Linked DNA regions of Homo sapiens. The protein of the gene in region 1 purifies or fractionates together with the protein of each later gene. This does not show direct contact. Each region holds a gene or a part of one and is shown in the gene's direction. Other genes may lie near its edges.

Region 1 (3,751 bases):
AGGTAACACTACCTGAGAGACCAGTGAGGATCTACAGTAAGCTAAGAGAAAACGTTGTTGATGAAGACATTGATTTGGATCCATCCCCATACATGTGTACTATGCATTTGATCTTGCCTTGATTTGGCATTTTGTTACTTCTGCTTTTCATTTCCATTGCAGTTGGTTGCCTCTTCTTGATTAGCTCCATATTATGAATCCTAATGTGGGGTGAGTGGCTGGGGTCGGTGGGTGTCTTTGGTTTCCCAGATTGTCCCTTCACTGGCATCCCCAGAATCTGGTGGAAAAGGCCTGTGAGCTCAGACACCTCTTTGCTCTGAGCTCACAGCAGGCCCTTTGCCTGCAGGGAGCAGTGGGCGAAGAGGATCTACTTAAGGGGTTTGTGGCTTAAATGGTGATGGAATTAGGAGGCTAACAGTTCTGCCTACTCTTTGGCCAAACCTCCTAAAAGAGTACTCAGGAGGAACCTTTTGAGAAGTGAGAATTCTAAGCATAATGAAATTCCGTAAGCATAGGCAGTGTTTTATATAGTGTTAGGCTAATAGATTCTTAGATACATTAAAATACTCTTTGACTAGGTCTGGACATAGCACTTAATAATAGTGTGCTCAACATGGGGAGCACATTTCCAGAATGTGAGAGTAGTTACTAGGCAGAAAAGAAAGAGACTAGGGTGGTGATGATCTGGAAACTTTGTCCCATCAGTGTCAGATAAGGAAGCCAGGGAGATTTAGTGTGAAGGAGGGGAAAACATGGTATAAACAGTTTGGGAAAAACAAAAAACAAACAAACAAAAACCCCAGGAGACTATGGTCTGAGGAGCAGAACCAGGGATAGGGATGGCAATTTTGGATCAGTGTCAAGAAAAACCTTGATGCCAGATAGAGAGCAGTCCAGCAGTGGAATGGACACAATGACCTTCCCTTCACCTGTGGTGCTCAAGCTGAGATTAAATTGATGATGAGTTGTGGCTACTGCCATCCTGGTGTGTGCAGAATTAATGCAGTTTTGTTCTAGAGGGCAGCTTTGTCTATTGAAATGTATTTTTGTTGTTTCTCTGCTTGACAAAGTTGGTATGAGAGAGCAGGCTTTTGTAATGATGCTGTAAGAGGCTCCGGATTTCTGGGCATGATGGGAGTACATTCTGGACATTGTGTGAGTTGAAAAGAGGCCCATGCTATGCAGATCTCTGGGACATCTCTAGATGTGATGTTACTTTTCTCTTCCCACAGGCCAATGGCCATGTGTCTCAGGATCAAGAGGAACCCGTCTACCTGGAGAGCGTGGCCAGAGTACCTGCTGAGGATGAGACCCAGGTGGGGCCTCTGCTTGGGTCTGTGTCTTCACCTTTCCTCTTTCACTGGTGTTCTTCGGAACCTCTTAGCAGAGTCGAGTGGAGAGAGAATAAATGTGTGATGATAGTGCTTCCGAAATTATATTTTTGGGGTAGGGTTTAGTGTTAGTGTTCCAGGTTAACTAGTGAAGCGGTCAGTGTATTTATAAGGAGTTGTGAGGTCACAGTGGAGACGGAGAAGCCTCATGGCCCATTGTATTTCCAGTCTCTTGACTTTCTAAGAGCTGCCGGAGGGCAGGCTTGTGGTCCTGCTGTTAAAGTCTTGTTCTTTCCTTGCTTCTAGCACACTGTAGCCATTGTCAAGGGAAGGAGGTCAGACAATTAGCCAGGCAGGGCCAGTCCAGAGCACAGACCAGGGAGCTGTGGCCAAGGTTGTGTATAGAGGAGTACTTGCCAGGGAAATGTGCCTCTTGTGGGCAAGCAGAAGTCTCCAGGGGAGAAGGGCCAGCACCATGCTGGGTTTCATGTGCGGCCATATTTAACCTCTACAGGACCCCTGTGGGGTAGGACTGCTCTCTCCCCTTAATGGAGGGGCAAACGGGCTCAGAGTGGTAAGCAACTTGCTGGATATTATTTAGCATTAACAGCAGAGGAGTCAAGATTCAAAATTAGGGTCATATGACTCAAACCAGCACTCCTTCTACTATACTTCTATCTAGTACTATATCACACTGATTGGTTGGTCTGTGTCTGTTTGCTCCTGAGCACAGAATCGTGGGTCAGGAAGAGATTCTAGTATATTTTGCAATGCAGAGCACCATGCCAGGTACTCATCCTGTCTCTGTTCCTACCCTTCATGAGGTCAGTCACCAAAATTATGATGTGGTGACTGCTTTGGGGTCCTTGGAGAAAGAGCTTGGGGAGGTAAGAGCTGAGCACACTGATCTCATCTTTGTCATTGCAGTCTATTGACTCAGAGGACAGCTTTGTCCCAGGCCGAAGGGCCTCTCTGTCTGACCTGACTGACCTGGAGGACATTGAAGGCCTGACAGTGCGGCAGCTGAAAGAGATCTTGGCTCGCAACTTTGTCAACTACAAGGGCTGCTGTGAGAAGTGGGAGCTGATGGAGAGAGTGACCCGGCTATACAAGGATCAGAAAGGACTCCAGCACCTGGGTGAGGGGCTATCTGCATGGTAGCTTTACAGAGCTCAGGAGTGTTTGCTGTCACTCCAAAGCATGATGGTATTGACCTGACTCAATTTCCACACTTAAGCCATGGAAGGAGACACCTTACATATTTGCACCGTCTAATAATAGCTGTCATTTGTGGTTGAGTGTCAAAACTAGATTAGGCATTGCATGTATGTATTTATTCCTTAGAGCAACCTATGAAATAGACATTATTAGCATCACCCCTTTATCTGAAAGGTAAAATTTAACTGAAAATTTTATGGTCTAAGTCCATAGCCTTTCTCACCATATGCTATCCCCTCCCTACTCACCACCACCTTGTAAGTTTTCTTACCTTAGAATAAGAATGCTTGTTCTGAAGATTTGGGAGGTAGAAAGTGAATCTACATACATGGCAGGAGAAGATAGCTGTTCCATCTGCACTTGGGCTCTTCCTTTTGTTCATTTCCCAGAGCATTTTACACTGTATCATTCAGGAGATGCCCAGGAAAATATCTGGGTCTGTGGTTAAATGAGTTTAGGGAAAAATACCTCATATCTTCATTACTGATTTATGGTAGATTTTTATATTAAAGGCAGAGAAGTCCTGCAGAAGAGAAATGTGTTTTGGCTGTTTTGAACTTAGCATTTCCTGAAATTATTTCACCACAGAATCTTCTCCTTTCCTCCCATCCCCAGTTGATTTGGTTCCTACAGAGCAACATACTGATTCCTTGCTTGGTAAGAGTGGTTGAAGTCAGGTTTCAGGCTCTCTTCTACCAGTAGCTCAAATTCATCAGTGTTAGGGGTCATCTGACTGACTCTTCACCCGATTACAGACTGAGGCCTACTGACATGGAGTCTGTTTTCCCTTTGGGATTGTTTCAAGAGTCTTCTCTCCAGTCGTCAGGACCTGGGGAACAGAACAGATGACTCCACGTGGGAACTTTATCCAGATTCTCTGACTGACTGAAACAGCTAGATAGTTCATTCTTTCTTGACTTTAATGCTGACTTCAAAATAGAAAAGGATATTGCACATATACAGTATCCTTCTACTTGGCAGTTTGTGCAAACTGGTGGAATACCTTTTCCTAAGAGTAGACCAGGCTGGGTGTGTTGGCTTATGCCTGTAATCCCAGCACTCTGGGAGGCTGAGGCAGGTGGATCACTTGAGATCAGGAGTTCAAGACCAGCATAGGCAACATGGTGAAACACCATCTCCACCAAAAACAAAAAATTAGCCGGGAGTGGTGGCATGTGCCTGTAGTCCCCAGGTACTCAGGA
Region 2 (3,751 bases), on another chromosome or scaffold:
GGCACGGTGGCTCACACCTGTAATCCCAGCACTTTGGGAGGCCAAGGCGGGCGGATCATGAGGTCAGGAGTTAGAGACCAGCCTGGCCAACATGGTGAAACCCTGTCTCTACTAAAACTAGAAAAATTAGCTGGGTGTGGTGGCGGGTACCTATAATCCCAGCTACTCGGGAGGCTGAGGCAGGAGAATCATTTGAACCTGAGGGGGTGGAGGTTGCAGTGAGCCGAGATCATACCATTGCACTCCAGCCTGGGTGACAGGGTGAGACTCCGTCTCAAAAAAAAAAAAAAAAAAGAAATCCAGTTTCTCCAATATCCTGTGTTCCAGATCATCATGCAGTCCAAAGTATACTTGTATTATTTAAGGACTCTAGGCCTGCAGATACTGATTCAGTGCATTAAAAGCTCTTATAAATATTGCCATCGTCCACACACCATATCCAACTCTTGAGGTCTCAGCATATGCAGTCTTTGTCATGATACAGCCCTGGTGTCATCAAGTCCTAATGGGTTATCAGCACAGACTTCACTGGTGCAGCATCACAGATGATGGTCCCAGTTCCTATGGTGGCAAGAGAACCCCAAATGACTACATTCCGACAGGAGTTTAACTCTATCCTGAGACTCATTCTGAGAGTTATAGATAAGATTCTGAAATTCTGGAAGGCACATGAGTGATTCAAGGCCAACACTGGGAAATGGTTCCTGTGTGCAAAGACCATTTGCCCTGCTGAAGCTCTTCTTGCAGGGCCAACACCGTTCTCCAAGCTTGCCTCCGTGATTACAGCATGCAGCCAAGACAGTGCCTACAATGAGGAGGTGTGGAACTGGAAAGCCTGGAGCAGGCGGGTACCAGAAGGGCTCCCAAAGGCTGGAGGAACATTCTTCACTCCAGAATAGAAAGCGATCCTGGAATCGTTTGGAATCACTGGAGATGTATTAGAGCACACATACAGAACGTCCAGTGGGAAACAGGGAGTTGAGCTGATTTCTCCATGGATGAGGATTTTAAAAGATAAAATAGGCAGGGCACAGTGGCTCATGCCTGTAATCCCAACACTTTGGGAGGCTGAGGTGGGAGGATCACTTGAGCCCAGGAGTTCAAGACCAGCCTGGGCAATGTAGCGAGACCCCATCTCTACAAAAAAATAAAAATAAAAAAATTATCTGGGCATGGTAGTGTATGTCTGTGGTTCTGGCTACTCAGGAGGCTGAGGCAGGAGGATTACTTGAGCCCAGGAGTTGAAGGCTGCAGTGAGCTATGATTGTGCCATTGTGCTTCAGCCGGGGGTACAGGGAGATCCTGTCTCTACAAAATAAAATAAGACAATAAGAAGTCATACTTCTGCCTAGTATGGTACAATGGACCTGAGTACAACTGAGAACTCTTTTTTTTTTTTTGAAACTGAGTCTCGCTGTATTGCCCAGGCTGGAGTGCAGTGGCGTGATCTCAGCTCACTACAACCTCTGCCTCCTGGGTTCAAGTGATTCTCCTGCCTCAGCCTCCGGAGTAGCTGGGATTACAGGCGTGTGCCACTACACCCGGCTAAGTTTTGTATTTTTAGTAGAGATGGGGTTTTGCCATGTTGGCCAGTGTGGTCTCAAACTCCTGACCTCAAGTGATCCGCCGGCCTTGGCCTCCCAAAGTGCTGGGATTACAGGCGTGAGCCACCATGCGTGGCCCACACTACTAAGATTTAATCACACTACTTAGGGATTGCCTGGATTCCAGGTCTACAGAAAAGAGAAAGTGGGGTACAGGGGGTGAGCAGACCTGGAGGGATAGTGACCTTAGGGGTGGGGGTGAGGAGAGGCATTTTCTTTTGGAAAGTTGGGGTTGGGGAAAGAGGGGGAACCAAAGGGGCCTCAGAAAAAGGAAGGTCAGGGTTAGAAGGGGGAACAGGTGTCTCTAGGGAGATGGACAGGAGTTTTGGGGAGGACTAGAAGGAGGTGCTTACCATAGAGGACTGGGGCTGGGTCAGAGCTTTGGCGGGGACTTTTGAGGCATCCATTGTTGCAGTGGGAAAAGGTGGGGTGTGAGGCGCGTTCAGGGCCTGGGGGGCAGATGGGGTGATGTCGGGGCTACAAGCTGGAACTAGGGGTGGAGCTTTGGAGGGAACCTTTGAGGTATCCCTTGTTGGAGTGGGAAAATTTTGGGTGTGAGGCGTGTTCAGGGTCTGGGGGACAGATGGGGTGATGGCAGGGCTACAAGCTGAAACTGGGGACAGAGCTTTGGGGGGAGCCTTTGAGGTGTCCCTTGTTGGAGTGAGAAAAGGGGTGTGGGTGTGTTCAGGGTCTGGGGGACAGATGGGGTGATGGTGGGGCTACAAGCTGGAACTTGGGGCAGAACTCTAAGGAGGGGTGGGCCTGAAGGGGCTGATACACTTACGGATAGTAGTGCCTTTTGGAGGAGATCGTGCTGGCGGGGGGTGATGGGACAGGACCAGGTGAGAGATTGGGTGGAAAGGGCACAACTTCTCAAGAAGAGACCTAGGAGGGGCAGACGCCATGTCTCTTACTCTCTGGCGCCCCCTGCAGGCTGCGGGCTGAACTACCACAAGCGCTGTGCCTTCAGCATCCCCAACAACTGTAGTGGGGCCCGCAAACGGCGCCTGTCATCCACGTCTCTGGCCAGTGGCCACTCGGTGCGCCTCGGCACCTCCGAGTCCCTGCCCTGCACGGCTGAAGAGCTGGTGAGGAGATGGGGGATGGGACGGGTTGGTGGCTAGGGGGGTGACTTGGCCCAGGCATGGGGCCAACGCACTGATGTGTCCCCTCCATTCTTGCCAACGACAGAGCCGTAGCACCACCGAACTCCTGCCTCGCCGTCCCCCGTCATCCTCTTCCTCCTCTTCTGCCTCATCGTATACGGGCCGCCCCATTGAGCTGGACAAGATGCTGCTCTCCAAGGTCAAGGTGCCGCACACCTTCCTCATCCACAGCTATACACGGCCCACCGTTTGCCAGGCTTGCAAGAAACTCCTCAAGGGCCTCTTCCGGCAGGGCCTGCAATGCAAAGGTTAGCTGGGCCTGTCGGGGAGGACAGACAGGGTCAGAACCTCCTTCCCGCCCCAACCTGGTCTTGTGGCAGGACACAAGGATCTGAGCCTTGGGACCCCAGGGCCTCAGAAGGGGAGGGCCCTGAATCCTAGTGTTCTGGGACCTTTGGAATTCTGGAATCTTAGAACCTCAGTTGTGTGTGTGTGTGTGTGTGTGTGTGTGTGTGTGTTGTTGTTGTTTTTTGGAGACAGGGTGTCACTCTATCACCCAGGCTGGAGTGCAGTGGCGCAATCACGGCTCACTGCAGCTTCAACCTCCTGGGTTCAAGTGATCCTCCTGCCTCAGCCTCCCAAGTAGCTAGGACTACAGGTGGTGCCACCACACCCAGCTAATTTTCTTTTCTTTTTTTTTTTTTTGAGACGGAGTCTCACTCTGTCGCCCAGGCTGGAGTGCAGTGGTGTGATCTCGGCTCACTGCAAACTCTGCCTCCTGGGATCAGGACATTCTCCTGCCTCAGCCTCCTGAGTAGCTGGGACTACAGGCGCCCGCCACCATGCCTGGCTAATTTTTTTGTATTTTTAGTAGAGACGGGGTTTCACCATGTTAGCTAGGATGGTCTCGATCTCCTGACCTTGTGATCCACCTGCCTCGACCTCCCAAAATGCCGGGATTACAGGCGTGAGCCACCGCGCCTGGCCACACCCAGCTAATTTTTAAATCATTTGTAGAGAGAAGGTATCACTATATTGTTC

Evidence for each region. The genes of interacting proteins can lie anywhere in the genome.
Region 2: the proteins of RFFL (region 1) and PRKD2 purify together in Homo sapiens (affinity purification with mass spectrometry; 4 studies listed by BioGRID and IntAct, with this or other methods). This does not show direct contact.

The regions. Positions count from the first base shown.
Region 1 is NC_000017.11:35,015,088-35,018,838, reverse strand, and holds part of RFFL (E3 ubiquitin-protein ligase rififylin), read left to right. Parts: intron 1-1,232; coding exon 1,233-1,316; intron 1,317-2,258; coding exon 2,259-2,469; intron 2,470-3,751.
Region 2 is NC_000019.10:46,703,436-46,707,186, reverse strand, and holds part of PRKD2 (serine/threonine-protein kinase D2), read left to right. Parts: intron 1-2,537; coding exon 2,538-2,692; intron 2,693-2,795; coding exon 2,796-3,018; intron 3,019-3,751.